Homo sapiens: one gene and its partners. The protein of the gene in region 3 interacts with the protein of the main gene of each other region in a pairwise test. Each region holds a gene or a part of one and is shown on either strand. Other genes may lie near its edges.

The links. Proteins that work in one complex are often made in the same cells at the same time.
Region 1: the proteins of SFXN3 (region 3) and ZDHHC15 interact in binary tests that used the Homo sapiens proteins (3 or more experiments, as listed by UniProt).
Region 2: the proteins of SFXN3 (region 3) and TMEM51 interact in binary tests that used the Homo sapiens proteins (3 or more experiments, as listed by UniProt).

Annotation. Positions count from the first base shown.
Region 1 is NC_000023.11:75,415,038-75,422,738, forward strand, and holds part of ZDHHC15 (palmitoyltransferase ZDHHC15), read right to left. Parts: intron 6,954-7,701; coding exon 6,827-6,953; intron 2,154-6,826; coding exon 2,050-2,153; intron 1-2,049. UniProt on the Homo sapiens protein: Palmitoyltransferase that catalyzes the addition of palmitate onto various protein substrates.
Region 2 is NC_000001.11:15,212,046-15,219,746, reverse strand, and holds part of TMEM51 (transmembrane protein 51), read right to left. Parts: intron 4,853-7,701; 5' UTR 4,660-4,852; coding exon 4,316-4,659; intron 422-4,315; coding exon 4-421; 3' UTR 1-3.
Region 3 is NC_000010.11:101,033,657-101,042,060, forward strand, and holds the end of SFXN3 (sideroflexin-3), read left to right. Parts: intron 1-1,035; coding exon of another isoform or gene 1,036-1,038; coding exon 1,039-1,199; intron 1,200-1,840; coding exon 1,841-2,011; intron 2,012-2,287; coding exon of another isoform or gene 2,288-2,346; coding exon 2,347-2,445; intron 2,446-2,829; coding exon 2,830-2,905; intron 2,906-3,010; exon of another isoform or gene 3,011-3,066; coding exon 3,067-3,152; intron 3,153-3,419; coding exon 3,420-3,547; intron 3,548-3,725; coding exon 3,726-3,775; coding exon of another isoform or gene 3,776-4,117; exon of another isoform or gene 4,118-4,714; intron 4,715-4,986; coding exon 4,987-5,036; intron 5,037-5,518; coding exon 5,519-5,566; intron 5,567-5,832; coding exon 5,833-5,929; 3' UTR 5,930-7,585; downstream 7,586-8,404. UniProt on the Homo sapiens protein: Mitochondrial serine transporter that mediates transport of serine into mitochondria, an important step of the one-carbon metabolism pathway.

The DNA.
Region 1 (7,701 bases), on a different chromosome or scaffold from region 3:
TGCTGGGATTACAAGCGTGAGCTACAGCGCCCGGCCATACAAGCACATTTATACTAAATGAAATGTTATATTTTGGGCTAGGAATAAAAATTCCACTTGATTCCTAAAAGAAATTAACTTAAATACACACATGTAATTTCAACTTACAGCACCTTTCCTAGGAATCTAAGTTGTTAAAAATGTAAGAACTGTTTGTCTATGACAGTTATGCACAGAAAATGGGAGCAACTGAAGTTAACATAGAATCAACCTAACAAATAACACAGCATGAGAACTTGCATTAGATACTAGAATGGGTTACAAAGGAGGATTGTGGAGTCTCCTTCAATGAACTTAAAAAAAACCCCTCAGCTATCTAAGATGGCATAGTGGTCTTGCTAAAGCTAAAGGCACCTTACAGTTTATGATTTTATGATTATGTAAGAAGCAGTTGAATGCTTCAGATCACTAAATGGCATGCAATCACAGCACTGTGTCTCATATGTACTTGTCCAAAGGAGAGACCTAGCATTGTAGTGGAAAAAAACTAGGATTTGGAATCAAGATACCTTGACATGTGAGATTAACATCTCTCAATTTTAGTTTCTTAATTATAAAATAGGGATGCTATTAATAACACTGCCTATCTAACCTGAAAGTTGTGAGGGTCAAAGGATATGAAGAAAAAATATAGGAAAGCACTTTGTAAACTATAAAATAACATACTAATTTTTAATGATTGAATATTTTTGAAAAGGTCTGGAATTGGAGACTGCTTCAAAATATAACCTCTTTATGATGTGATGCTATATCTACATTTAAAGTATTCCACTTGCCAACACAAAGCTCAGCTATGAATAGCTTTTTTCATTGTGAATTATTTCAAACCAGGTAAAGACCTGATAATTATTTGGCTTCTATTAGAGTTTGGGTTTAATACCAAAATAAGAGTTGTTATAACTTGTGACTGCTGTAAGTAAAAGTCAGTTCAGAAAGACTGAAGACTGAAGGAAGACAGGTCAAAATATAGTCAATTTTCCAATAGTCAGCAGGAGGAAGTAAGGGAGTTGCCCTTGTAAGTTCTTTGGGATGGACAATAACTGTTTTCTTTTTTATCTATGGATTTGTGGCTGTTTTGTATTCCTTGGGCCTAGTAACATGCTTTTCTCTAAAACTAGATTTCCTGGTAATCAGGGCCTGGATAATCCAACTGGGTAAAAAATTAGAAAGGCTTGTTCTCTACCGCTGCTCCCACTTCAATACTTTTCCATGTCTTCATTTAGCCTCCTTCACCCCAGGTACAGTTTGTGATAGCTACTACAAGTTCCTACTCAAAATTGCTGCCAGCTACTGCATTATTGGGAACAGTAGCCAAAACTACTTTCTAATGGTTGGTATTAGCAACATAAGTAAATGTTGGAGACACAAAAGTAGGCACAGCAACAGGTGGAGACAAGGAATAGGGCTGGCAATGGGGATACATTATATGAGAACTCAACTTTTAGCTCTTTACAAAATGCCTTAGGATGACCCAGTGACCTGGTAGGAGAAAGTTGAAGCTTATTTTCCTTTGCCCCTCTTCCTTTTAGAAAAGTAGACTACATGCATGTGTAGGCTTGCCCCATTACTATCTTTTAGTTTTTAGTGTATTGAAACCATTCTAAAAAGAGAGTGAGTATAGGATTTTAAAGAAAATTTAACCAATGTGAATGAAAGAGGATGGAGAAAGGTGCAATGTTGCCCATTGATTAAATTGAACTCCACATTCAAGCAAAGTACTACAAGTGACTACCCAGCAGGATTGTTTAGAAATCCATATATATCCAGATGTATATCTGACTGGTAATATAAATCACAGAATCACAAAGCTGGTAAGGAGCCTCCCAAGCTGCAATCTAATCTTATCTAAACTACCCATGGTTACTAAACAAATATGGCCATACTTGCTCTCCACCATCCAGAGGACACTTATGAGGTTGACATGCTTATAAAATCTTTCTGGACACTATTTACTCACCACATTACATTGGTTGTATTAATGTGGACTTCATAGTCTTTGACCCCACTTACCTTGGTTGTCATCCTCGTTGTCTTCCCAGGTTTCTTCATTTGCTAGCAGTGGGTTCTGTGACTCATTCATAGACCTCATAGGGAAGGAGTGTCCATCACCAGGGCTGATGGGAAAAGAAAGGCAGTGACCTATTGCAGCTGACATAGACTTTTGTGAAGGTTATAATCCTCTTAAAAACAAGAGGGGGGTTCTTAGCCATATTTAGTCTCATTGTCTAAAGCCATGGTGGAATGGGCTCTTACAATAGCATTATTTAGTTGCTATATTGCTCTCGATTTCCATATCTTATTTGTGTGTCTGCATCAGTGTTAACTTCTTGTTTGTAAGAACTCTATAGTTTGCTTCCCAAAATGCCCAGTATGGCAATATGCACACACAGCAAGCTTCATACATATCACTTAATGATGATGATACCAATTTATATCCAATTATCTCACTGCTTTGATTCTAAGTTTTCAAGAAAGATGACCAGTCTCTGAAACACTAAATACAGTGGAGATAAGCTGGTGTGAATTGGTGAAAGACAATGCGCAAATGCACTGTTATTTATTTGGTGTGCATGGCAGAAAGGTTATTAGGAACTAGGGGAAAGAGCCAGAGTGAGCCATCTCTAGACTGCAGATTTTCAGGGCAATTATCCACATGTGGGGTCTCGCTTTGTGGCTACCTGTGGTAAGCTAGGGTCAACTCCTTGGGTAATTTCTGGCCACTAACAGATGGGATGCATTGGAGGGAACTGAGCTGGCCCTGGCTAGAAGAGGCTACAGTTTGAACATTTCAGTTTAGGTATCTGAATGCATTCCACATTTGAGTCTGAATGACTTTTGATGTTACCTATGCCTTTTCTCCTGTTCATGTATGTGGTAAATTGAAATTTGACAGATTTTATTGATAGCACTCTAAAGAGAATGTAAGTGTACTGATTATAAATGAATGGGCTTTGATTTTTGGTTTTGTTCTTTATTCCAGAGAAGACTGATTTTACATCTCCCTTTGATGTGGTGATGATGTGTGGATATTTGTGTATGTGAGTATGTGAATAGGGTATAGGTAATATCTGGTAACAGTTATTAATCAATATTACCCACTGACATAGTTTTGCCTTGTGATTTATAGACAGGTTAGTTGGATACACCACATCTCTGAAATACATGAGTCTTTAAAATACTAACTGCTACACAGGAAGTATCAAGGCAATCAATCAAGGAGAAATTTTTCCATAATTACCACCCTACCCCCAACAAAGTTACCTCAACTAAGTGAACATGAGTGTATTCCTGTCTAAGGAGGGGACTGAAAAGTGGCTGCAAGAAGGCTATAAGCAAGCTCTGCTCTAGAACTAGTTTAGTTGATGGTGGTTCAATCTGGTTCACAAAGTCATTCAGAGAACACAAGCTTGACTGTTTATTTCTCATCCACTACTTTCCCTGCATAATTGTTGCAGTTCTAAGAATGACCTACAACCGCAAATTAAACTATACTACAAGGCTACAGTAACAAAAATAGCATGGTACTGATATGAAGACAGATATATAGGCCAATGGAACAGAACAGAGGCCTCAGAAATAACGTCACAAATCTACAACCATCTGACCTTTGACAAAAACAAGCAATGGGGAAAGGATTCCCTATTTAACAAATGGTGTTGGGAAAACTGGCTAGCCATATGCAGAAAGCTGAAACTGGATACCTTCCTTACACGTTATACAAAAATTAACTCAAGATGGATTAAAGATTTAAATGTAAGACATAAAACCATAAAAACCTTAGAAGAAAACCTAGGCAATACCATTCAGGACATAGACATGGGCAAAGACTTCATGAACAAAACATCAAAAGCAATGGCAACAAAAGCCAAAATTGGCAAATGGGATTTGATTATACTAAAGAGTTTCTACACAGCAAAAGAAACTCTCATTAGAGTGAAGAGGCAACCTATAGAATGGGAGAAAATTTTTGCAATCTATCCATCTGACAAAGGGCTAATATCCAGAATCTACAAATAACTTAAACATATTTACAAGAGAAAAACAAACAACCCCATCAAAAGAAACTACCATCAGAGTGAACAGACAATCTACAGAATGGGAGAGAATTTTTGCAATCTACTCATCTGACAAAGGGCTAATATCCAGAATCTACAATGAACTCAAACAAATTTACAAGAAAAAAACAAACAACCCCATCAAAAAGTGGGCGAAGGATATGAACAGACACTTCTCAAAAGAAGACATTTATACAGCCAAAAGACACATGAAAAAATGGTCATCATCACTGGCCATCAGAGAAATGCAAATCAAAACCACAATGAGTACCATCTCACACCAGTTAGAATGGCGATCATGAAAAAGTCAGGAAACAACAGATGCTGGAGAGGATGTGGAGAAATAGGAACACTTTTATACTGTTGGTGGGACTGTAAACTAGTTCAACCATTGTGGAAGTCAGTGTGGCAATTCCTCAGGGATCTAGAACTAGAAATACCATTTGACCCAGCCATCCCATTACTGGGTATGTACCCAAGGGATTATAAAACATGCTGCTATAAAGACACATGCACACGTATGTTTACTGCGGCACTATTCACAATAGCAAAGACTTGGAACCAAGCCAAATGTACAACAATGATAGACTGGATTAAGAAAATGTGACACATATACACCATGGAATACTATGCAGTCATAAAAAATGATGAGTTCATGTCCTTTGTAGGGACATGGATGAAGCTGGAAACCATCATTCTCGGCAAACTATCACAAGGACAAAAAACCAAATACCGCATGTTCTCACTTATAGGCGGGAATTGAACAATGAGAACACATGGACACAGGAAGGGGAACATCACACACTGGGGTCTGTTGTGGGGTGGGGGGAGGGGGGAGGGATAGCATTAGGAGATATACCTAATGCTAAATGATGAGTTAATGGGTGCAGCACACCAACATGGCACATGTATACATATGTAACAAACCTGCACGTTGTGCCCATGTACCTTAAAGCTTAAAGTATAATAAAAAAAAGAAAAAACCAAACAACCCCATCAAAAAGTGGGCAAAGGATATGAACAGACACTTCCCAAAATAAGACATTTATGTGGCCAACAAACATATTAAAAAAAGCCCATTATCACCGGTCATTAGAGAAATGCAAATCAAAACCACAATGAGACACCATCTCATGCCAGTTAGAATGGCAATCATTAAAAAGTCAGGAAACAACAGATGCTGGTGAGGATGTGGAGAAATGGGAACGCTTTTATACTGTTGGTGGGAGTGTAAATTAGTTCAACCACTGTGGAAGACTGTGTGGCAATTCCTCGAGGATCTAGAACTAGAAATACCATTTGACCCAGCCATCCCATTACTGGGTATATACCCATCGGATTATAAATCATTCTACTATAAAGACACATGCACACGTATGTTTATTACAGCACTGTTCACAATAGCAAAGACTTGGAACCAACCCAAATGCCCATCAATGATAGACTGGATAAAGAAAATGTGGCACATATACACCATGGAATACTATGCAACCATCAAAAAAATGAGTTCATGTCCTTTACAGGGACATGGATGAAGCTAGAAACCATCATTCTCAGCAAACTAATACAAGAACAGAAAACCAAACACCGCATGTTCTCACTCATAAGTGGGAGTTGATCAATGAGAACACATGGACATAGGGAGGGGAACATCACACACCAGGGACTGTCCTGGGGTGGGGAGCTAGGGGAGGGATAGCATTAGGAGAAATACCTAATGTAGATGATGGGTTGATATGCAGCAAACCATCATGGCACGTGCATACCTATGTAACAAACCTGCATGTTCTGCACATGTACCCCAGAACTTAAAGTATAATAAAAAAAGAATTACCTACAACCTCAAATTAATCTTTGTTCTTGCTTTTCATATTTTTATTCATAAAATAATATTAGTATTAACCACAAAATATATAAAATGGAGAAAATATAAATAATTTCTAAGACTATTGCCCTTACCATTTTTAACATTTTTTGGTGTATTTCTCTTCTGCTGCTTCTCTTCTATATATATTTATGTTTTTAATCACAGTGTATTGAATTTTTCGTTTTTCACTTAAAATATAGTACCATTTTTACCATTTTTTGGTATATTTCTCTTCTGCTGTTTTTCTTCTATATATACTTATGTTTTTAATCACAGTGTATTGGATTTTTCTTTTTTCACTTAAAATATAGTAAGCACTTTCCCTTTTTGTGACATAGTCTTTATAACCATTACTTTTGATTGTATAATATTCCATCCAGTATGTGTGTATATATATATATTATATATATATAATATATATATAATATATATATAATATATATTATATATATATATTCCCATATTGTTGGCTGTTTAGGTTGTTTCCTAATTATTGGCTATAAATAATGCTGTGATGAACATTTTTGTGCATAGTTTGTCTCTGTCTTTAGGGTAGATTCAATTCCCAGAAATGGAATTACTGGGATGTTGGGCAAGTAGATTCTTAAATTTTTTGATAGATATTACCAAATTCAGTTATAAAAGATTGGTAGTGCCACTGCACACTGCCACAAAGAAAGCATGAGAATATCTATTTTATCAGACCCTCACCTCTTTATTTGCCTTTATTAACCTAGAAATGAAGAACTTGGGGAATAGAGTTTCACACTGGACTGATACCTGCTGCATACTACAATCAAAATTGAATTTGCTGGTTCAAGGCAGGGTCCAGTACTAACTTCTTCCAGTGGTAATATTTACTCACCTGGAACCAATAGGTATTAACCAGAACTTCTTCTTATCTCCAAACACCTGCTGGATATTCTTGATGAAGCCAAGGTTGAACCCATTTTTCTCTGGGCCACTTGTAAACACTGGAGTGCAGAAGGCCTCTAAGGCAGGGCAGGAGAGTTGAAGAAAAGAGGAAGAAAGCAATAAAGAAACAAATTTCAGCATAGTCATGATTTTACATTTCTCCATGTATGTGACTTGGTTCTATTATATCTTTTTGCTGTGGTAGCACAGACCTCTCATTTTTAGGTATTGCTAAATTGCTTAGTAAAAACCAGTTTAATCACTTCACACAAACTAAACTTGTTACTGCATATAAAGAATTAGAACTCTCTTTTTAAAAGACAGGGGAAACACATGGTGGCAGAAATAATTAAGCAGCCACGGGGGTAGTATGTATTTTGTACTGCTGAATTTAGAATATAGGAACAGATTTAACAGCACTTTATTTGAATCTAAGCGGCAACAACAGCCGAATGACCACCATCTTTAGAGCTGGGAAGAAAGTAATGACACATAAAGAGATGGTAATGACATTGATTTGGTTTTGAAACATTTCAAAAATGAAAGTGTTCATGCTGAAGCCTGCAGTGTAAGAAACTGAGTTTTACTTCAGCTAAAATGTCAATTGGTGAGCCATAATCACTTCAAAGACTGTAAGGAATGGGACCATGTTAGTGCACATTATTTTTAGACACACATTTATCCCATTAAGTAAATGATTTCACTGTTGGACTCTAGCTGCATCTGACTGTTTCTCATTTGTTCTTTGTTTTCAGACTCTGTTATCATGAAGCTTTTAGTGGTTTTCCACTTCGTAGCTGGTCTCTAAGCCAAATGTGCTAATCT
Region 2 (7,701 bases), on a different chromosome or scaffold from region 3:
CATTCAGTCGGGCGGCCGGGTGTCGGGGGCCTTCTCCTGGACTTCATCATACTGCGGTGGAGGAGTCAAAGGCTCTATCGAGGGAGGAGGGACGTTTTTGTCTGGGAGGTTGATCCTAAAGTCTTTGAGGTGAAGCTTTTCAGATTTAATCCTTCGAACTTTCAGCGGTTTCAGTCGTTTGGCCAACTTAGAGTTCTGCCTGTCAGGGGGGTTCCCAGGGCTGGCCTCCACGTCAGCCCTGGTGGATGTGGGGGTGGTCTCGTCGAGCCCCGTCAGTGACTCATAGGACGGGAGAGAGATGCTCAACCTCGGGTTCTGCTCCTCTCCCCTTGCTTCTGAGTAGTTTGTGTTCATCACTTCCTCGTAGCTGGGAACATAGTACCTTGAGGCAGCCTCCTCATCCTCCTCTTCTTCCTCCTGGCTGCAAGAAGACACACAGACAGGGAGAGTGTTAGCCTGTGCTCAAGTCATTCAAAATCCCAAAGGGATGGGCTCCAAAGAGTCCACACACAGCAGCCTTGTAAATAACAAATGGGTCTTAGAGGCAATAAAAGTGAATACTTCAAGTGTTTACTATGAGCTGGGCTCCCTTCTAAGTATTTTAGCAAATATGAACCAATTTCAGATTCCTGACAACACTATGAGTTAAGTACTAGTCATGCAGGACAGGACAGGTGAGTCCCCAAATTGGGGCTTAGCCTGGGAGGGTTCTTGGCTTCATCAAGGAAGGAATTCAAGGGTGAGCCAGTGGTGTTAGACCACAATTCTTTATTGAAGGGCACTGCTTCTTGTGGAGCAGGGCTAACTCATAGGCAGTACACCCTGAGTTGGCCACATAGGGGCTCTTGGAAATTGTATTTATACCCACTTTTAGTCACATGCAAATTAAGGGGTGGGTTAATGCAAATTGAGGGGCAAGCTATTTAAGACTTCCTAGGAAAGGTAACTTCTGGGTCGTTACCATGGAAAGGGATGGTAACTGCCAGGTCGTTGTCATGGCAATTGTAAACTGTCATGGCACTGGTGAGAGTGTCCCATGCTGATGAGCAATGAGGGCAGCCAGGGATCACCCTCGTTCCCGTTTGCTGGCTTTGGCTAGTGTTTTTTTAAACCTTATCTCATCTGGACCACATCCTGTTTTGGTCAGCAGGGTTATGATCAGAAAACAAGTCCTGCCTGTTTTCTATCTCACTATTATTATAATACCCAATTTATAGATGGACTGAGATACATCAAGATTAAATGACTTGGTCAGACCTTCAGGAAATGGGAGGGCAGGAAGTGAACACTGTACTCTCAACTACTCCACCATGTTATCTGGGTGTTAAACCTCCTTTGCCTTTAAGCCTTTCCCACTTAGCGACATGCTGCGTGAGCTATTCCAATGCTCAGCTGGGTCCTTTGGTCAAAGGCAACACAGAAATGTACAAAGTTGCTACCAACTTTCAGTAGAGAAAGAATATCTGAAATATAACATTTATGTGTGTCTCAAATTATTCTGTAATTTTATCTTCCAAGTTTATCCCAAGACTCAAAAAGATCAGGTCCTCTCAGCCTTATTCTCATTTGACTGTTGAAAGAGAAAACCAAAAAGTCAGGATATTTTCTACACATTTGTCAGAATTAACGCCAATAGCCACTTTCCAGGACTCTATACTTGAACCTGTGGGGTGATCATGGCCAACATCAGAAACCTCAAAGTCTGCCTTGGTTTTCCTCCCACCCTCCTTTAGGAATGAACTCAAATGTGCTCACAGCTAGGGTGGGGAATGATGAGTGATTGATATTTGTTCTTTTCTATATTTCTCAAGTTTTCTAGAATAAGCATGTGTGATGGTTAATTTTAGGTGTCAACCTGACTGGCCATGGTTGCCCATATTAAACACTGTGAGAGTGAGGGTGTTTCTGGAAGATACTAGCATTCAGCTCGGTGGGCTCTGTAAGGCAGATTCCCCTCCTCAGTGTGGTGGCACCATCCAACCCATGGAGGCCCTAGATAGACCCAAAGTCAGAGCAAGCAGGAATTTGACTCATTTCTCCCTGCCTCACTGCTTGAGCTGGGACATCTCATTTCATCTTCTCCTGCTCTCAGACTAGGATCTATACCCTCACCTCTCCTCGTTCTCAATCAGGCCTTCAAACTCAGAATGAATTATACCCCTTGCTTTCCTGGGTCTGCAGCTTACAGATGGCAAATTGTGGGACTTTTTGGCTTCCATGATCCCAGGAACTAATTCCTCATAATAAATCTCCATTTAAAAAAATATATATCCCCCTGGTTCTGTGTCTCTGGAGAACCCTGACCAATACAGCATATATTATTCTTTGCTATCAGAAAATGAGTTTAATTTGGAAATTGTATTTGTACCCACTTACACCCACTTTCAATTATGTGCAAAAGTAAGAAGTGGGTTAATGTAAATTGAAGGGCAAGCTATTTAGAACATTCTAGGAAAGGGATGGTAACTTCCAGGTCATTACCATGGAAAGGGGTGGTAACTGGTAACATTGGAGGGCAGAAATCCCTTCAATATAATGAGATTTTTTTTTCTTCTGGTGTGTACCCACAAGTGGCATTGCTGAATCATTTGGCAGCTCAATTTTGAGTTTTTTGAAGAAACTCTAAACTTCTCCACAGTGGTTGCACTAATTTACATTCCCACCATTAGTGTACCAAGGGTTCCCTTTAATCCATATTACATTAAGAACAATTCCCTTCCCACTATAAAGATAAGAAATGCTTGTAGAAAATTCAAACAACACAGAAACATCTAATGAAGAAAAGAAAAACATCCCGAATCCTTCTACCTGGAGACAAACCACTGTAACATTCTGGTGTATACCTTTCCTACCCCTCTCCAATCCCACAGCCACAACATTTGATGGGACCATAACCTGACCAAAGATGCTGTATTATATCCCCCTTTTCTCATTGTTGTGGATATGGTCCCACATTAACAAATATAGATCAACAGTTGCTGCATAGAACTCCATTGAATAGGTACGTCATTTAACTCAGTAGGTGGTTTTTTAGGTTGTTTCTAAGTTTTTGTTATCCTAAACAATGATCTGATAAATATACTGGTACAAACTCCTTTGCACCTGTGGGACTGTCTCCCAGGGATAAACTCTTATAAATAGGATCAATACGCACATCTTCAGTACTGCCCCTTATGGTGAAACTCTTAAGAAAGTTTCTATCAGTCAACATTTCATCAGCAATCCATCTTCCCTACAACTCTCCAACAGTAGGGGCTGTCTATCTTGATCAATATGATAGGCAAAAAAAAGAAAAGACATCTTTTTGCTTGCATTTCATGACTAATGAAGTTGAACATCTATTGGTTGAACATCTATGGAATATTCATAATCTTTGTCTGTTTCCTATTGGTATATTCATCTTACATATTCATTTCTAAGAGCTCTTTTTATAATAGGGATATCAACTATTATCATATCTTCCCCAATGTATCACTTATCTTTTAAATTTGTTGGTGGCATTTTTGCTCAAATGGAAAATTGCTTCCCAGCCATTTCAAATTAAAGCATACACACAGCATGCTGGGGTGAAGGGACAAGCAAATATGCTGGCCACCCCAGGCCCTGTTCAGTGACCCTGGGCGGGTCAAAATGCTGGTTCACTTAAGAGTAATGGCCTCCAGCTCCATCCAAGTTGCTGCAAAAGACAGTTTTTTGTTTTTGTATTTTTTTTTTTGAGACAGAGTCTCACTCTGTCACCCAGGCTGGAGTGCAGTGGCGGTATCTCAGCTCACTCACTGCAATCTCCACTCCCCTGGGTTCAAGCGATTCTCATGCCTCAGCCTCCCCAGTAGCTGGGACTACAGGCATGTGCCACCATGCCCAGCTAATTTTTGTATTCTTAGTAGAGACAGGGTTTCACCATGTTGGCCAGGCTGGTCTCAAACTCCTGACCTCAAGTGATCCACCTGCCTCGGCCTCCCAAAGTTCTGGAATTACAGGAGTGAGCCACTGCACCTGGCCCAAAAGACAGTATTTTGTTCCTTTTTATGGCTGAATAGTATTCCATGGTGTAAAAATCTATTGTAATAAAATTTTTAAAAAATCTTGGTTTACCTGTAATCCATTTGTACCATGCTATTTGGGAAGCTCTGGTAGAAAAGTCTAAAGTTATTTGTAAAATGATAAACCGTTTTGACAGAGGCGTCATGGGCGAACATGGGACAATAAAGCCTGTAGATGACAGTCTTTTCACCACGGAAAGGTGTGAACATGTGTGTGCATGCGTGCGTGCCCATCCCCGATCCGGGGAGGGAAGGGGACAGTCAGGCCTCACCTGTCTTCCTCCTGGGCGTGAGGCCCAGCGCCTGTCGGGTGCTGGACATGGGCCAGGTCCTCGCCCTGCCGCTGCTTCCTCTTATCCCTGATACTCAGGCAGATAGAAAGCAGCAGCAGCATCACCCCGGCCCCGACCAGCACGTAGGCCACAGAGAAGGTCTTGCTCTTGAGGATGCCGCCACCCACCTCGGTCTTGTTGCTGCCCTGAGCTGTTGGCTTCTCGGCCGCGCTGAAGCCGGGTACCAGGTTCCACATGGCCATGATCACCCCAAGGACCAGCATCCCCAGGCCGATGGCGGTCAGCGCATAGTGCGAGCCATTGGCCTTGGACTGGGCCATCATGTCAGTGGGAGGAGGGCGAGGCCCAGTTCCAAGAAAGAAAATAAATGTATACAAGGCAGCAGTCACAACAAAAACCCCTTAAATGCGCTCCACAAAATCTCTCGCCCCACACTAGAAAATATCAGCTGAACTCCTGCGGGATGGTTCCGAGCAATCGCGAGGCCTCCCGTGCGGATGGCTGCGGTGGAAGGGCCTGGAAGGAAAGCAGAAAGAGCAGAGAGGACGATCAGTTCCGATTCCAGACGCTTTGTGAATGTGGCGGCTCTGCTCTTGAAGGAGTTAGGCAGCAGCACCGAGCACGCCGGCTCTGGCTGGGCCTCGCCTTTGATGCATTCCAGATGTCTTACGTGCTCAGGCTCCTTGTGCGAGGCTGCGAGAAGGGAGGCCGGTCTGCCCAGCCCGCTACTCCCTGAAAAGGAAAAGCCAGACCTTTCCCTGCTGGAGGCCAGAAAGGTCGGAGCTCAGGTCATTAAAACATTGTGTGGAATTTAATGAAGTGCAGTAAAATCGTAGCTCTTGCTGGAGGCTGCTGGGAGAGTGAGCGATGGGATGAATGGTCCACAATCGATGGTTGTAACAGACTCACCTGGGGGACAGGGCCTCAGCCAATGGTATGACCAGGCCAAACAGCCTACTGTCATCTGTTCCCCACCCTCAATGGCTCCCTACTTCCTGCAGGAGAAAATCCAGCTTCTTAGAATGATGCTGCTCATGGTGGCCTTAGCCTGGCTCCTGCCTCTCCTACTGCATGTCTCAGCCTGCCTTTCTTTGCACTACCCACCCCCAACCACCCTCCAGAACATTTCTCTGGTCACCCATAGCTCAGATGCCCCTTTCATGTGCTCCCCAAATCCTCCAGCAACCACCGTGGTGAGTCTCTCTCTTCCCATGACCACATTGTCATCATCTCTAAGCCTGGCACACAGCAGGGACTCAAAAAATGTTTGCAGAGTTCATGCCTGTAATCCCAGCACTTGGGGAGGCCGAGGTGGATGGATCACGAGGTCAAGAGATCAAGACCATCCTGGCCAACATGGTAAAACCCCGTCTCTACTAAAAATACAAAAAAAAAAAAAAAAAAGGCTGGGTGCTGTGGCACGTGCCAGTAATCCCAACTATTTGGGAGGCTGAGGCAGGAGAATTGCTTGAACCTGGGAGATGGAGGTTGCAGTGAGCCGAGATTGTGCCACTGCACTCCAGCCTGGGTGACAGAGCAAGACTCTGTCTCGAAAAAAAAAAGTTTGCAGAGTCAATGTTGGATGAAATGAATGCAGGCCACATGAAGTCACCCAGCAAGACAAGCTTCTCTGAAACCACATCGAGTTCTCCCTTTGTTAAAAGGGACACAGGCCTGCACATTCTTCCTCTCCGCTCCTGTGCCCAGCTGGACAAAATAAACCTTCTTTCCACAAAGCAGCCCAGAGACCCTGCGCTAAAGGGAGCAGCCAGCGGTCCTGGGATTCCACAGCATTTGTTGGTTGAGAGCGAGCCAGAGAAGCAGTCACTCAAGGCTTTAGTTTAGAACATTCTCAAGGACTGAGGAGGAGGAGCAAGCAATGCCCCTTGCTAAACCTCTCCCCCATACATTATTCCTGTGACAGGAACTTTTGCAAAACAGTAAAATTTACAAGATGTTTAGCTGGGCAAGGACCTGTTTTCAATTCTGCATTTTTTCCAGTCTCTCCGAAAGGATGACTGACCAGGCTGCTTGAAATCTGATGCTGCGAAGATATTTTCTTGTGAAACCATGAGTTTATCTGAAATTGGCCACTTTGTTAAAAGAGACTCTAAAAATATTTGGAACAACATCCTTTATCAGCTTTAAGTCTGTTCCTTCTTTTTTTCACCCAACAAATATTTCTTGTGCATCTCACTACCTCCTAAGTAGCGAGTTAGGCACTGGAGAAACAGCAGTGAGCAAGTTAAGGATTAGCAGAGCTTCTAGGCCAGCAGGAAAATGATCTATAGGGAATACCAATAAAGTAAGAAGGAAGTACAGGAACTGTGGGATTAGACAGCAGGGTGTCCTAGCTCAGGGCTGTGGGACATACAGAAAGTCTATGTGGGAGAGGATTCCCACTGGCCTAATTGGGCCTGAACCCTGAATGCACAGCACTGTGTATGTGCACGTGCGTGAACGCACTGGCTCTGCTCTTGAAGGAGTTAAGAAGAAGCACCAAGGCACACTGGGGCATGAACACGTGTGCATATATGTTTATGCACACATGAGCACATGTGCATGCGTGCGAGCACCTATGTACATATGCATGCATATGTATGGAATATGAACAGGTAGGATGGGCATGTGTGTGGCGTGCAGGGCGCTGAACAGGGATCCCACTGCAGACAGCTGCGGTAGGACCAGATGGGACCGTACACAAGGATATTTATTTCTTACAGTATCACTCATGGCTGGCAAAAGGAAGGATGGGGGCTCTGGCAGCCTTAGGAATGCACCGGTTCTACCAAATGGATCTGGGACAAGGTCAGACTCGGAGGGTGGAGAAGTACACAGCCAGGGGGTTGTGCTGGAAGCAGGAGTGATGAAAATACCACGTTCTGAGCACATGCTAAGTGCCTGACAGGCAGGCCTTGTACGTGGGACGCTGAGAGTGTGGTTAGCAGACTAGTGATTTGAGCCGCTTTAACCCCCTCACTGCCTGCCCTCATTCGTTCTCCATTCCAGCTTTGCCTTATGCTGCACGAGAGAAAGACAGGCTCCAGATGTGAATCATGGGCAGAGATTAAAATGTCGGGATTAATACATTCTTTTTGTCTGATAAACTGTCAATGATTAAAAACAGGTGATAATACTCAGTGTGGGGAAAGGTATTGGGATGGCAATTTCATGGCATTTTTTTAGATGGCAAGTTTTGGCATTTATAGAACAAAAGTTTCAAAAATGTTTATACCCTTTGGCTCTATAATTCCAACTTCTAAGAATTATGTACAGAGATATCATCACAGCTTTATAGTGGTGAGAAGCTAGAAATTACTTCAATAGCCAATAATCCAGATCAGGGTAATAAATTATGGTTCACG
Region 3 (8,404 bases):
GTTCAGCATACCAAGGATCTGCACCGGCACCGGTCTCTGAGTTCCCTCAGTTTTTATTGATTATTATTTTCATTATTTCAGCAAAAAGGAATGTAGTAGTAGAGCAGGTTGATAATAAGGAGAAGGTCAGCAAAAAACATGTGAGCAAAAGAATCTATGTCATAATTAGGTTCAAGGGAAGGTACTATGCCTAGATGTGCATGTAAGCCAGATTTATGTTTCTCTCCACCCAAACATCTCAGCGGAGTAAAGAATAACAAGGCAGCATTACTGCAAACATATCTCACCTCCCACCATAGGGCGGTTTTTCTCCTATCTCAGAATTGAACAAATGTGCAATCGCGTTTTATATGGAGACATTCAGTTCCCAGGGGCAAGCAGGAGACAGTGGCCTTCCTCTATCTCAACTGCAAGAGGCTTTCCTCTTTTACTAATCCACCTCAGCACAGACCCTTTATGGGTGTCAAGCTGGGGGACGGTCAGGTCTTTCTCATCCCACGAGGCCATATTTCAGACTATGCATGGGAAGAAACCTTGGACGATACCCCGCTTTCAAGGGCAGAAGTCCCTGTGGCTTTCCGCAGTTAATTGTGCCCCTGGTTTATTGAGACTAGAGAATGGCAATGACTTTTACCAAGTATACTGCTTGTAAACATTTTGTTAACAAGGCACGTCCTGCACATCCCTAGATCCCTTAAACCTTGATTTTATACAACACATGTTTTTGTGAGCTCCAGATTGGGTCAAAGTGCTGGGGCAAAGTGGCTGGGGCAAAGCTACAAATTAACAACATCTCAGCAAAGCAATTGTTTAAAGTACAGGTCTTTTTCAAAATGGAGTCTCTTATGTCTTTCCTTTCTACATAGACACAGTAACAGTCTGATCTCTCTTTCTTTTCCCTACATCTAGTCACCTTGAGCTCTTGAAGGGACTGATGATAAGCTCAGGGGCCAGGGCAGGGGCACCAAAGATTTCCCCTAGCTGGAGCCCTTGGACCCTTGGACTCCCGCTCTGACCCTTATCTCTGTCCTGCAGAAAATGGGTGAATTGCCTTTAGACATCAACATCCAGGAACCTCGCTGGGACCAAAGTACTTTCCTGGGCAGAGCCCGGCACTTTTTCACTGTTACTGATCCTCGAAATCTGCTGCTGTCCGGGGCACAGCTGGAAGCTTCTCGGAACATCGTGCAGAACTACAGGTGACCACCCCTCAATCTGACCCTGTGTGCCAGGATCTCATTTTCTGTGATTAATATAATATGTTTTGTACCTGCCTCCTCAAGCTTGACAGTGACCCTGTCCCTCAATCCCCTCACTCTCTAGCCCCGTCTGTTGGCATCACAGAGCTTTAACCCAAAGGATTTTAGGGCATTTGGGTTGAGAAGATGGCATTGATATTTATGGGAGGGGCTGCTCTATGCATCACAAACCTCTACAGGGATCTATCCCATTGCGGGGTCACCCTCTGCAAGGATAGAGGTGCTCAAAGTGGAGTCCCAGGAAGATAGGAGGGAAATCCCCTTATCTTTGGGAGGAAAAACTCTTGCAATGCTTGCAGCCATTTTTGACCCACTGGAAACCACCATCATCCCTGACCCAGCATTTTGGCAGAAACAGAAGGGTACCCCTCTTTGTGTGGCTATAAGGGAAATAGAAATAGGAGCCTCCACTTCTGGGAAACTTTGGCCCTCTCCCAAAGATAAGGAGCTTCCTTATGCTGAGACTGGGGGCTGAAGTTCCTGGTTCTCTGTCCAGAGTTACCCTGAGCTGGGCAGGTGGGGCCTGTGAGGGCAGATCTGCCCCCTGGCATAGCCTGTCTGCTCCTTGCCAACTTCTGCAGGGCCGGCGTGGTGACCCCAGGGATCACCGAGGACCAGCTGTGGAGGGCCAAGTATGTGTATGACTCCGCCTTCCATCCGGACACAGGGGAGAAGGTGGTCCTGATTGGCCGCATGTCAGCCCAGGTGCCCATGAACATGACCATCACTGGCTGCATGCTCACATTCTACAGGCAGGTCTTGTCCCACGTCCCCTTCTTCAGTGCCCTAAGCTAGAGCATAGCTTGACTAGGTGCGCTTCTTGTCTGGGCCAACTGGGTGAGTGAAAGATTGTGTCAGAATCGCTTCCATTCCTCAGAATTCAGCCTCAGGAGGTCTCTCACCCCAGAGACAGTAGGTGTGTTTGTATAAATGGGGGTGGGGGTACATAGGGGTTACCAGAACAGGTTCTAGGGCCATTAACTGGGTCCCTTCTTAGGCTTGGGGAATAACCTTTGGTTTCATTACAGGGGTCTAAAGATGAGGGCCACTGTAGACGGGGCAGAAGTGAGTGTCTTTGTTCCCTCAGGAAGACCCCAACCGTGGTGTTCTGGCAGTGGGTGAATCAGTCCTTCAATGCCATTGTTAACTACTCCAACCGCAGTGGTGACACTCCCATCACTGTGAGGTGAGAGCCAGCCCCCAGCAGCAGCTGCACTGTCCCATCTGACCCTCTCCTCCCAGCCTGCAGTGCCCTCTCCTTTCTCTCCGGTTCCCTGTGGACCATGCAGCCAGTGCTCAGCGCCCTCTCCTCAGCCTGCCCCACCCCGAATTACCCTGCCTAACTGAAGGCATGAGGTCCTCTTATGTATGCTGTGGGGGACCCACCCCTCTTCACAGGGTGCTACTGGGGCTTCTAGACAAGTTTACGCCGGAGATGGAGGGAAGGCTTCTTCTGCAAGGAGCTTCCCCTTTTATGCCTCATGTATTGAGGACTTGGCATATCCCTAAAGGAAAGGGCCACCTGCTGGACTTGTCACCTCTCCCCGTGACCTGGCTTTTCCACCCACAGGCAGCTGGGGACAGCCTATGTGAGTGCCACCACTGGAGCTGTGGCCACGGCCCTGGGACTCAAATCCCTCACCAAGGTAAAGGCCCCTCACTCCCCTGACCACCCCATTCATCCTCTATCTGCCTCCTTCTTCCTCATCACACCTCCAGTTCTGACCTATATGCCCCCTATATCTCCCCAGAGTCCCTCACCACCCCATGGCCCTTAGGGCCACTGAACAACACCCTTCCTCCCCAGCACCTGCCCCCCTTGGTCGGCAGATTTGTGCCCTTTGCAGCAGTGGCAGCTGCCAACTGCATCAACATCCCCCTGATGAGGCAGAGGTGAGTGACCCCGGCTCCTGGCATGTGCATGCCCAGAATGTAGCACACTGTCCATCCACGCAGACCACCTCAGAATGGGGACATCCCTCTCCCTCCCCAGACATGAGCTGCTGGGCCCTGGCTCAGTCTGACCCTGGGATCCTCAGGTGGGAGAACCAGCCTTTGAGCCTGGGGTGTGTGAGGGGACCCTGAGGAGCCGCTGCTCATTCGGGCATTGCAGGTGGGATCCGGGGCCTGTGATCTGACCCCAACCCCCCTCCCTTGCAGAGAGCTGCAGGTGGGCATCCCGGTGGCTGATGAGGCAGGTCAGAGGCTTGGCTACTCGGTGACTGCAGCCAAGCAGGGAATCTTCCAGGTGGTGATTTCAAGAATCTGCATGGCGATTCCTGCCATGGGTAAGGCGGGAGTGGCTGGGTGGGGCATAGGAGACTCTGAGAGAAGCAGGTGCAGTTCTCAGGGACTTTGGAGGACTCTGGGGAGAGAGGGAGGAGCTTTGAGGGGGGTCACCCTTCACAGTTCCTGACTTTAACTCCACTACTAATGTTCTCCTTCTTGGCCCTGCTCTCCCCACAGCCATCCCACCACTGATCATGGACACTCTGGAGAAGAAAGACTTCCTGAAGGTAGGCGACTGTACCTCTCTTGTCCTGGAATGGGCGATGGCTGGGAGAAGTGACCAGGCCCCAACTCTCTCTCCAGCCTCGCCTGATTCTCTAAGACTTGCCAGCCCTTCTCCTGACCCCTGCACCGCCTCCTCCACCTTCGTTCATTCAGCAAGAATGAACTGGGCTGGGGTGAAGGAACTCTGCAGGGGCAGGAGGAGAGGACAAAGGAAGGAAACCAACTTCATCAGTGTTACTCCAGTGGCTTCTGACACACAGAAGGGGACTGTCATAGTCATGCTTGATCTCATGCTCATTCTTTTACCCCCTAGTGCCTCCATACTGAGAGGTACACACGGGTGAACACGCACACACAGACATGAACAGGACACGAAAGCAAAGCACAGGAACAAGCTCTGGCTCATTCACAGAATCATTTATTCACAAATGTATTGAGTGCCATGCACCAGGCATGTTTTAGGGCTGAGGAGATGGCACTGAACACAATGGTTATGGCCCCTGTCCTCATGAAGTTTATAGTCTGATGCAGAAACCAATAAACAAGGAGGCACCCAATAAATACATTCTTAGAAAGTGTAATATGTGCTTTGTAGGAAAGCAATGGGGGTAGTGTAATTGAGATTCATGGGGGAGAGCTGTTTAGATAGGATGATCAGAGAAGGGGTCTTTAATGCCGCAAAGGATGAGGAGAGAGCCAAATAACGCAGAGAAGAGTGTTTGGGGTACAGAAAACAGTCAGTGCAAGGGCACTGCAGTAGGAGGGGCTTGCACATTTGAGGAACAGGTTGGTGGTCCCTGTGGCCAGAGCAAATTGAGAAGAGTGCCGAGGAAGAGATGTGCTTGGAAAGGGTCAGATTCATGCCACTGGGATGGGAAGAGGTAAGTGGAGGTTCACAGGAGGTTTCCTGAAGAAATCAGCTCCTGGAGGAAGTGAGGGAAGAAAAAAAAGGGCCAGGGAGTGCCATGGCAACCAATTCTGAGAGGTGAGAGGTCATGGGATGCCGGGGAGGGTGATCAGCAGACAGGCCTGGCTGGAGTGGAAGGGCGTGATCTGGAGGTCCCAGCCCTGTCATTGCCTTGGGAGAAAGAAAACGGCCACAGGTCTAAGGGCTCCAAGGCAAGGCTGATGGGATAGAGCTATGGTGGGTGAAATGGGGTGACAGTGAGGCAGGGGACACAAGCCGTTCCATTGTCTTTCTGTCTCTCCACAGCGCCGCCCCTGGCTGGGGGCACCCCTGCAGGTGGGACTGGTGGGCTTCTGGTAAGTGTGCAAGGAGTTAGCTGGGGTGTGTGGGAGTGCCTTGTCCATGGTGGATGTGGGTGGGTATGGATTGTCTTTAAGATGTTTATAGACATCATCCATTCATACATTCAGTGGGTGTGTGTTTGGAACAACTATAGGGTCTACTTTGTGTGTTACGGGGTGGTCCCTGTCCTTGAAGGTCAAGATCCTAGTGAGGGGGTTCCAGTCTTCATCTATAAGAGGAAACCATGGAAATGTACCTTTTGGTGCCATCCAGGAGATTCATGCCCATTTAATTCCTGATTCTGCCACTTACTGGTTGTGGGGCTCTCTTTCCTCAGAACCTGATGTCCAGGTTGGGTTTACTATTCCTAAAAGGTCCTTTCAGCTTTTATCAATCTCCACCCCTAGGGCCTATCTCCAAGGATGGGGTGGGGTGCAGGGAGGGAACACCCTAAGGCCAAAGCTTTACAAACCTTTCCAACACTTGTCTCCCCCAGCCTGGTATTTGCAACCCCCCTGTGCTGTGCCCTATTCCCCCAGAAGAGGTAAGTGCTGTCCCTGGGCTGGGTGGGGGACTCTGGATTGGACTCTGCATCTCTGGACCAGCTGACCTAGGGTCTTCCAGGGTGTTCAGGAGGAGGCCTGGCAGGCACTCCACTGATTCTGGGAGTGGGGGAATGACAGTGAGCCAGTCCTTCTGGCAGTAGAAGGAGAGGATTTTTCAGCCTGGGAGGAGGTGGGATGGCAATCCCTGGGCCTGAGTGGGGTTGGATTCAGGGGACGTTAACTGGCCTGTGCTGTTCTATTGCAGCTCCATACACATAAGCAACCTGGAACCAGAGCTGAGAGCTCAGATCCATGAGCAAAACCCCAGCGTTGAAGTGGTCTACTACAACAAGGGGCTTTGAGGAGGGTCAGCCTCTGTCCCCTCCCTCACTTCCTTGGGCTGCTGCTTTAGTGGAGTCATGTCACCCCTACCACTTGGCTATCTGCCTAGCACTGGGCAGGGGCCTTGGTGGGCAGATGGCAATTGAGGGTAGCAACCTATTAGGGTGGGGGAGGGACCTCCATAAGGCTTTTCCTCCCTTCTCTGGTTTCAAAGATCAGAGCACATAACCCCTCCTGTGCTTGAGTGTCCATGCATATACATACATGATACACATGTGTATGTGTACATTGGGTCCTGAAAGCTAGAAGCAGGCATGCTAGCCTAGTATGTTCTGACATCTGGCTTCCCTTCTCAGCCTCATGTCCACCTGCCTGCCAGCCAGGCTACAGGTGTGACTTCCTTCTCTAAACTGTTACACCAGCCAAGTTATTTTTGATGGCACCTCATCCCTTCTAGAAATAGGAGGAGCCCCAGGATCTCAGGACAGAGACTTATAGACACTAGTAGGACAAAGCGGGCTGAATCCTTCAGGTTTCTGATACCTAGCTCCCCAAGCTGACTGGGCTGGCAGAGGAGAACATGTTGAGACAAGGGAGGCAGGGGACTTATGCATCCCTCAGTGCCATCCCTTGTATCCTGGAATAGCTCCATTTCCCCTCCTCCTCTCTACCAGACAAAGGAGTGCCTGTGTCCTGTACTGCCCTCGCTGTCTCCCCCACCACCCTACTTGACAGCGTGGGCATCTTCAGGCACAGCCTTGGGAGTTCCTGGTGTGCTCTGACATCATGACCTCAAATCTAAATCCTCCAATCCCAACTCCCTTTCCCAAACAAAAAGCCACAGAGGCAGAGCAAGCATTCCCCTTTAAGAGCTTCCACTGCACCCCCTCCCAAGGGACACAGCGGTAGGAATGGTGCTTAAACTCCACAGGTATCAGAGAGGGTGTAACTAGGACATCCTCAAGGGCAGCTAGGCCCCGAATGTACAATGTTAAGACAGGGAATTTTGTGTTCCATTGACTTTTTTTTTTTTTTTTAATGGAGTTTCACTATTTTGCCCAGGCTGGAGTGCGATGGTGCGATCTTGGCTCACTGCAACCTCTGCCTCCTGGGTTCAAGTGATTCTCTTGCCTCAGTCTCCCGAGTAGTGGAAATTACAGGTGTGTGCTACCACATCTTGCTAGTTTTGTATTTTTAGCAGAGATGGGGGTTTCACCATGTTGGCCAGGCTAGTCTCGAACTCCTGACCTCAGGTGATCCACCTGCCTTGGCCTCCCAAAGCACTGGGATTACAAGCATGAGCCACTGTGCCCAGCCTGTTCCACTGACATTTCTTAGACATTCAGCAAAACCCCCACCTTAACCTCTTTTCTTTCTTGAGGGTTGGTCCTGTCCCCACCTCCACCCTCCCACCCCCTGGAAGAGGAAGGGCCCGGGCATCAGTGGCTAGTCCAAATAAAATATGGGCTTGGGGATGGAATGGGTGGTGGTAAGTTCACAGAGTGTAGTTAGATCCCAACTCCCATGACCTCTGGCTTCAGTGGTGGGTGGGGCAGGGCAGATGAAAGGGCTTCAGTGGGAACCTCTGAGAGCATTTTCCTGTTCCCCCTATCAACCGCCCCCAGTGATAACATCTGTGAAGCCAGCCATTACTCAATAAACTGCAAACTTGTCTACTTCTTGGTCTTCACTTGATTCCACGTCCTGAGGGCCCAGAAAGAGTCCCCTGCTTGCAGCCTTCCGTCTCTCCCTGGACTCTCCCCAAGTCCAGGTCTTGTCTCATTCCTCCCCCTGTGTAGGGAGCCTCATGCCCCAGCAGAGGGAGCTCTGAGATTAGAAAATCAGTCCTCCCTCTGGCACCCCCAAGTATGTACTAAGACAGAGGGCGAATGTAGATGCTTTCACCTTTTTTTTTTTCCTTTTCTTTTCTTTCTTTCTGTTTTTTTTTTTTTTTTTTTTTTTTGCGACAGGGTTTCACTCTATCACCCAGGCTGGAGTGCAGTGGCACCATCATGGATCACAGCTCACTGCAGCCTCAACCTCACCAGTTCAATTGATCCGCCTGCCTCAGCCTACCAAGTAGCTGAGACTACAGGCACGTGCCACCACACCCAGCTAATCTTCTGTATTTTTTTATAGAGATGGTTTTTGCCAAGTTGCCCAGGCTGGTCTCCAATTCCTGGGCTCAAGCCATCCACCTGCCTTGGCCTCCCAAAGTGCTGGGATTACAGGCGTGAGCCACCGTGCCCGGCCTAGATAACCAGTTTTAATTTCATCCTGTCCTGTCAATCACCAAGCCCACTGGAATCCTTAGTCAACTCTTAAAGCTCTTTCTGCAGTTACACTTTTGGCCTTTGGCAATCCCCTTGAAAAGAGGCCTTGTATTGCCAAAAACTGCAATCACTTTTGCACCAACCTAATACTTTTACTGGAAAATCTATGTAACATAACCCCATGTGGGGAGTGAGGTACAGAAATCTCTGCAAAACAAAACC